2 linked regions of the Homo sapiens genome follow. The protein of the gene in region 2 purifies or fractionates together with the protein of the main gene of each other region. This does not show direct contact. Each region holds a gene or a part of one and is shown on either strand. Other genes may lie near its edges.

Evidence for each region. The genes of interacting proteins can lie anywhere in the genome.
Region 1: the proteins of CPT1A (region 2) and EMC2 fractionate together in Homo sapiens (co-fractionation; one large-scale study listed by BioGRID). This does not show direct contact.

The regions. Positions count from the first base shown.
Region 1 is NC_000008.11:108,471,049-108,474,705, reverse strand, and holds part of EMC2 (ER membrane protein complex subunit 2), read right to left. Parts: exon of another isoform or gene 3,543-3,657; intron 1-3,542. UniProt on the Homo sapiens protein: Part of the endoplasmic reticulum membrane protein complex (EMC) that enables the energy-independent insertion into endoplasmic reticulum membranes of newly synthesized membrane proteins.
Region 2 is NC_000011.10:68,768,849-68,772,505, forward strand, and holds part of CPT1A (carnitine O-palmitoyltransferase 1, liver isoform), read right to left. Parts: intron 1-3,657. UniProt on the Homo sapiens protein: Catalyzes the transfer of the acyl group of long-chain fatty acid-CoA conjugates onto carnitine, an essential step for the mitochondrial uptake of long-chain fatty acids and their subsequent beta-oxidation in the mitochondrion.

The sequences.
Region 1 (3,657 bases), on a different chromosome or scaffold from region 2:
TGTCAATGGTAACATGAAAATGTGTACAGCAGTCACACCCAAAGGGACTGAGGAAAAAAAATACACCCTGCAGATTACCTAATAATTACAGCATTTTAGATTTATGAAGGACCACATATATATATGTATGTGTGTGTGTGTGTGTGTGTGTACTCTCATCCAAGATCATGCAGCTATTTAGCCCTTTCCATTTTTAAATTCAAAACCTAGCATTGGTTCTTGACACATGATAGGTATTTAATAAGACTGAACAAATGATTGAATAAATGTCTAAAACAAATGTGTTATGACTACCTACCTAATATATATTTATCACTCGAAAAGAAAAGGGAAAATTTGTCTCTACCTTAAACACTTTATCAAAAGACAGTTCTCTTCTAAATGTGTTCCTTTAATTATTAATAGTATGATGCCAAAAATTCATATTGAGACTAAGAATAAAAGTTCTTAGACATTTAAATGGGTTGAGCACAACTGTGACACTGGTGCATAAAGCAAGATAAAATGGGCAGGTAGTAGCAGCTCTTAGGGTAAAATGAATACCAAGATATTTTCTCAAAAATCAATTAGCATCACATATGAGAAAAGGACTCCTTCCCCCAATTTTATAAAGTACAGTATCAAACTAATTTTGTGGATAAAATATAGAATTAAATAAAATTAGAGCTAGAAGGAGCTCAACAGATGGTCTAGTCCAGCTTTTCTAGGCCATTGTTAGGCCACGCAGAAAGTGACTATTTCCTCAGTCTTGTCAGGGATAATACATAGCCAGTACTATTCTAGGTGCATAGAGAAGTTAATTCATTACACACAGTGACTCAACAAGACTAAGAATAGAGAAGTAAAAATAATTTGAATCTACTTAAAACAGAATAACAATTGTTATTACAATATTAGAGTCAGTACTAGAACTAAATAAAGTTTTCTTCTCTTCCTTACAAAAGTATATATAACTAAAGGTTACAGTATTTGGTACTGTGTGTTACTTTACCAACATCACAATTTTTCCTTAAAGAATTGTGGTAATTCCGTTGATATGGAATTTTAAAAGGCTGGACTTATGAAAAGGAACTATAATCACAATCATAATTAATGTATAATACTAACTGTTCCTTGCTGTATAGTATCTAGTTTCAATAACAAATGAAGTAAAAAAATTTGTCTTTCATAATGTGAATGTATTTTTGCTTACAAAGGTTGGGTATCCCTTAACCAAAATGCTTGGGACCAGAAATGTTTCAGATTTCAGAAGTTTTCAGATTTTAAAATATCTGCATTCTTACTGGTTGAACATCCCTAACGCAAAAATCCCAAATCCAAAATGCTCCAATGAGCATTTCCTTTGAGCATCATGTTGGCACTCAAAGTTTCAGATTTTGGAGTATTGTGGATTTCAGATTTTCAGGTTATGGATACTTAACCTATAATACATATTGGTAGTGCTGACACAAAAAAATTAACTGTAGTTTTAAAACTTTAGAACAAGTGTCTCAATATGGTCAATGGATGTAACATATATCCCTGGAATAACTAAAAACAAACTATAAATCAGAAACAAACTTATAAAAGTAACTTAAAAATATAAAAAGGTTACATGGCACAATTCTATATCCCTTTTTCTCTCTATAGAAACATTAAATAGGGCTATATGAAAATTATACTATAGATATTTATTTGGAGTTTAAAAATTCCAGAGCTGGGCACAGTGACACACCTGTAGTGCCAGCTACACAAAAGGCTGAGGTGGGAAGAGTACTTTAGCCCAGGAGCTCAAGTCTAGCCTGGGAAATGTTGTAGACTCTGTCTCTTAAAGAAAAAAAATAGTTCTAGATATAGGCTACCAAAGCTGCCTGCGACCTATTATACTTAAAAAAGCTTACAACTGTTCATATGCAGAAAGGAATATCGAATGTTAAATATATCTGACATTTTCGAAACTGCTACGTTTTTGCCACTGTGTCCCCAAGACTGGTGCTAAAACTGATATCCTACGATAATTTAACATTCCATCAAAAAATTCCTGCCTCCTATAATGACTTGCTCAAACATGTCAAATGAATCAAGTGAACTGATTGTAATTTTCACAGTTTCAAAAAAACCTGTAGATATGCATTTCCAGTCACCTAAACATAAATATTCCTTCTAAGTGTTCAATTAGAAAAAAAAAATGGTCATTTTGTAACTAACTAGCTTTAAGACCAAAAAGAGTTTTGTGATACTAGATAAAAGGGTAGGCTGACCATAATTATCATTTTCTCTAAAAAAATATTTTTAGGTGCTCCTACATCTTTGTAAATCTTCATTTTTTGAGATTTCTCAGTTCATTTCTCTTAAGTGTACATTCACCTCTGTTTCAATAAACTCTTTAGATTCCAAACAAAGCAAAACTGAAGGTGGTACCACATGGTGAAAAAAATAAGTAAATTTAATGGTAGGTTAAAAATAAGGTATAACCTAAATTTGATGATGAAATAAATATTAGAAATACATGCAAAAAAATAAAATTGCAAATGAAGTAGGGGGAAAAGGTGATATATTTTTAAGCTATTAAAGGACAGCAGACATGATAATGTTAAAAATTGATGAATCTGATTTTCTAAAAATGTAAAGTTTCTATAATTTTAAGAAGTCAGTATTTAAAAAGCATATAACAAGGATATACTTTTGACAAATGGTTGCTCTCCTTTATAAAAAGAGCTCGTAAAAATGAACTAAAAAGGTAGAACCAATTTCACCTATCAAACTTGTAAAGATTAAAAAAGAATCATAGTATCCAGTGTTGTTAAAGAGGGACTCTAGTAAATGCTGGTGTGCAAGTAAATTGATGTTACCATTCTAGGGAACAATCAGGAACTATTTATCAAAACCACAGAAAATGTACATCTTATTTAATCAAGCAATTTTACTTCAAAGAATTTAACCCAAGGAAACAAAATAAAAATGATCACTACAGCATTATATATAAAAATATAAAACAACCTTTATATCTCCCTAGGAAACTCGTTAAAAATACTAGGGTAAATTAGTAAGATGAAATAATATAAAGCCATTCAAAACACACTGTAGATTGTTACAGTGACAAGAAATTTTTGAACAAAATATAACTAAGGGAAAGTATAAACTACGGAAGATAATTTTATTTTGGGCTTTTATTTTAAAAGATAAGGAAGGACAAAAACCAAACAAACTATAGTTAACTTAGGATGCTGGAATTACATGTAATTTTTGTCTTGGTCTTTATGCTTTACTGTGTTTCTCAAATTTTCTGCATTAGGTATTCCTTTAACTTGAAAAAAAAAATTTCCTTGTTGATTTGAAATGTTTTAAAATGCTTTTAGTCAGAAAATCTTTAGAAAGTACAAAAAATGTTAAATGACTGTCACCTGTTTTAGAAACAAAATAAAATTAATGCTAATTATTTTTACTATACTCTAAAAATTCAATTTCATGTATTTAAATATAAGTATTATATACTGTTTCACATGTGTAAGAAATCATGAGTATGTTTACATATGTGTACATACAAGCATATCATCTATACTGAATGTGATTCAGGAAATAATTTCCTAATCAAAACCAGAATATCTGTTTCAGAGTATAGCAGAGAACTTGAAAAACAGTTCCTAGAATATAGTATACATTCATTAAATTACAGCT
Region 2 (3,657 bases):
CCATGGGGCCCCTAAATTTATTAAAACTATTCCCAGCTGCTCTATGAACATCCCTGCCTCAGTCCACCCTCACCAACATGAAAAAAAGCCTTTACCAACCCCGTAGGCAAAAATCTAGTCTTGTTTAAGTTGTACTTGTTAGATTCTTGGTAAGATTAAGCTTATTACCTACACTCATTGACCGTATTTTTCCTCTCTTGTGAACCACAGTTTCTGGTCTGACTCCTTATTTCTCTTGGATTATTTTTTTCCAAAGGCAACCACTTAGCCAGATTTCCCAGCTCCATTTACTCACCAGCTCCCCGTCCCCTACTGATGTCAAATGCTCCCTCCATTACACGTTATTTCCCAGGCCTGCTTTTGTACGAGGACTGCAGCATTTTATTTTTATTAAAAACAATTTTTTTAAAGATAGGGTCTCACTGTCATCCAGGCTGTAGTGCAGTGGCACGATCACGGCTCACTGCAGCCTCCACCTCCGGGGCTCAAGTGATCCTCCCACCTTAGCCTCCGGAGTACCTTGGACTACAGGCATGCGCCACCATGCTGGGCTAATTTTTTTTTTTTTTTTTTTGTATTTTTTGTACAGATAGAGTCTCCCCATATTGCCCAGTCTGGTCTCAAACTCCTGGACTCAAGTGATCCACCTGCCTCAGCCACCCAAAGTGCTAGGATTATAGGACTGAGACCACTTTAATCACAACAGTCTTCTAACTCCTACACTTTAAGTTTTAGGATTTGAAAAAGTACATGTCCACCTCCCCGTGTCCTGCCTCCGCCTGATTGCTTTTCTTTTCAAAAATGTTACAGGTGACTCTCAAATGTTAGCCTTTTCAAGCCTCAAGATCAACTGGGCAAGCTCCTCTCCTGAAGCCCCTGCCTGACCTCTCACTGTGTTCATATTAAATGTGTGAACTAAGCCAGGCATGGTGGCTCAGGCTTGTAATCCCAGCACTTTGGGAGGCTGAGGCAGGCGGATCACTTGAGGTCAGGAGCTCGAGACCAGCCTGGCCAACGTGGTGAAACTCCGTCTCTACTAAAGATACAAAAATTAGCCAGGTGTGGTGGCAGGCACCTGTAGTTTCAGCTACTCGAGGGGCTGAGGCAGGAGAATCACTTGAACCTGGGAGCCGAGTGAGCAGCCGAGGCTGCAGTGAGCCGAGATCGTGCCACTGCACTCCAGCCTGGGCAACAGAGTAAGGCTCCGTCTCAAAAAAAAAAAAACAGTGTGAACTGGGAACATCCCTTCCTCTATGGTTCTGAAGTTTTTTTTCATCCAAAATCATGGCTTTTTCTCCCTCTCCCTGGGGAGGAGTTGGGGGGCGAGTGCTCCTCGGCCTTCTTCCCAGAGTCCAGTCTGCTTTATACACGTATGCCTGGAAGGTGGGGCCCCAGATTCTCGTTTCTATTACATTCTCTTATTATATTTCCCACTTGGCCATCATCCTTGTGCAAGAAAGCTGGTGGTCTTTGTGCAACTCTGCGCTGGGCCGGCTCACTGGGTGTGCCTCTTAATCGTCAAAGCCTTTCTGCTGTTCCATCTCCTGAACAGACATAAATGTTCTTCCTGCCCAATTACCCTGTCATCTGCTAGAGGCATCCTCATCTTTCTTGTTTTAAGGGGACTGCCTCCCACACTTTTACTTTGAAGCAGTAGCTAGCTATTAATACACGATGCCACTTATCCTGTTAAGGAAAGAGCCCTATTACTAAGCCCCTTGACCAAGAGCTCTTATCAGGAATGGATGTTAAACGTGAAACGTCTTCTTAGGATCTGTGAAACTCACTATCTAGGCTCTTCTCTGACCCAACAGTATGGTTTAGTGTATGACTGGATTTACTGACACAAAACCAGCCTCTCACCGCTGGTGTACGCCACTGTGGGTGACTATTCTTTTCCTACAGTGCTGGATTCTAGTTGCTAAGATTTTATGGAGGGTCTCTGCACTTCCATTCATGCGGGAAGCTGGTCTGTGCTTCCTTTTTCTGCGTTTAGCTGCAGCACAGTGATGAGAGCCACAGGTTCTCGAACAAGCCTGCCTGCTTCCGATCTCAGTCCTGCTGCGTACGAGCTGGAGCCCTCAGGCAAGATGCTTCACCTCCGAGTGTGGAGGGCAGAGATGAAGAGATGCCTTCCTCGGGGCCGTCCTGAAGTTTCGCTCGCTCCTGCCAAGTACATGGCACAGTGGCTGGTGCCCCTTGCAGCTCATTCCCACACCTGGGCCACGTGGGTTCTGGGGAGCAGATGGGGTGGCTTCCTTTGTGGAGTCTCTGAGCTGCAAGCTCTTTGGAGTCACAAGGGTGGCTCCCTGACAACCTCTCACTTTGGTCCCTGGACCAGAGGCCTTTTCAGGTTTTCTACCTTGAGTCAACGTCACCAATTTGTACTGCTTGCAGAATAGTCATTTCAGCATGTTTCAAAATGTACTAAACTGGAGCGTGGCATTTCCTTACTAAACTCCTAAGTCCTGCGCTTACTTGCAGGGAATTCTTTTAAAAAAGAAAAAAATTTAAAAAGATAAAATAACATCCTTTCTGTAGGTAAGGTATCAACTGCTTGCATGCCCTCATACTGCACGTTTACGGGCAAAATCTGCTCATCAATTCTCAAAATCCAGCTCACTGATTCTGAGATGCGATGCCTCTATTCCATGTCACCTTTTAATCACATGATCTTTAGTCAATGATCTGTCACAGACAGGAGCTTGTCACTGTGCTCCTGGTACTCTGCCCAGCTGCTTCTGGTTTACGCATAGTGAGCATGTTACTTGGGAAAGCAAGGCTTCATAACTGTGACAGTCTTTACAGACTGTATTAGCATGCATTTTAAATACGATTTTGGCCCATTCATTCCAGTTCATCTGATATTAACACTGCCTCTTACTTCTCTGTAACTGTTTTCTTAACTTTAGGTGGAGAGAGCATAGACTCTGGAGCCGCTGGCCCGCTTTATCCCTGCCTAGTGCCACCCTGGCAAGCACCTGGCCTCTCTGCACCTGTTTCCTCACCTGTAAAATGGGAAAACAAGATTTTCTGAGGCATAATGGGGACTTGTAAATTTTTAAAAATGGGATAACAAGAGTGCCTCCCAGGTGCAGAGACAGTGAAGCATGAGGTACATGATGCACCAAGCAAAATTCAACAATGGCACAATCGTTACCAAGGTTGGGGGGGCAGTGCCACACGCTGCATATGTGTACAGCACTCAAGTTTTAATACAAGGCTGGGCACGGTGGCTCACGCCTATAATCCCAGCACTTTGGGAGGCCAAGGCGGGTGGATCACCTGAAGCCAGGAGCTCGAGACCAGCCTGCTCAACATGGTGAAACCCCATCTCTACTAAAAATACAAAAAATTAGCTGGGCATGGGGGCGCACACCTGTAATCCCAGCTACTCGGGAGGCTGAGGCAGGAGAACTGCTTGAACCCGGGAGGTGGAGGTTGCAGTGAGCCGAGATCATGCCATTACACTCCAGCCTGGGTAACAAGAGTGAGATTCTGTCTCAAAAAAAAAGTTGGGAATATCTCAAGCCAATGCCACGATGACTTGTGCTGCCCCCAGAAACCAAGGGCCCCCTGTCTGGGATGGAATGCTCCCTCCAATGGACAAGAAGACCCATTTATGTCCCTGCTAGGGGTGCAGGCTGCTCCTCCAAC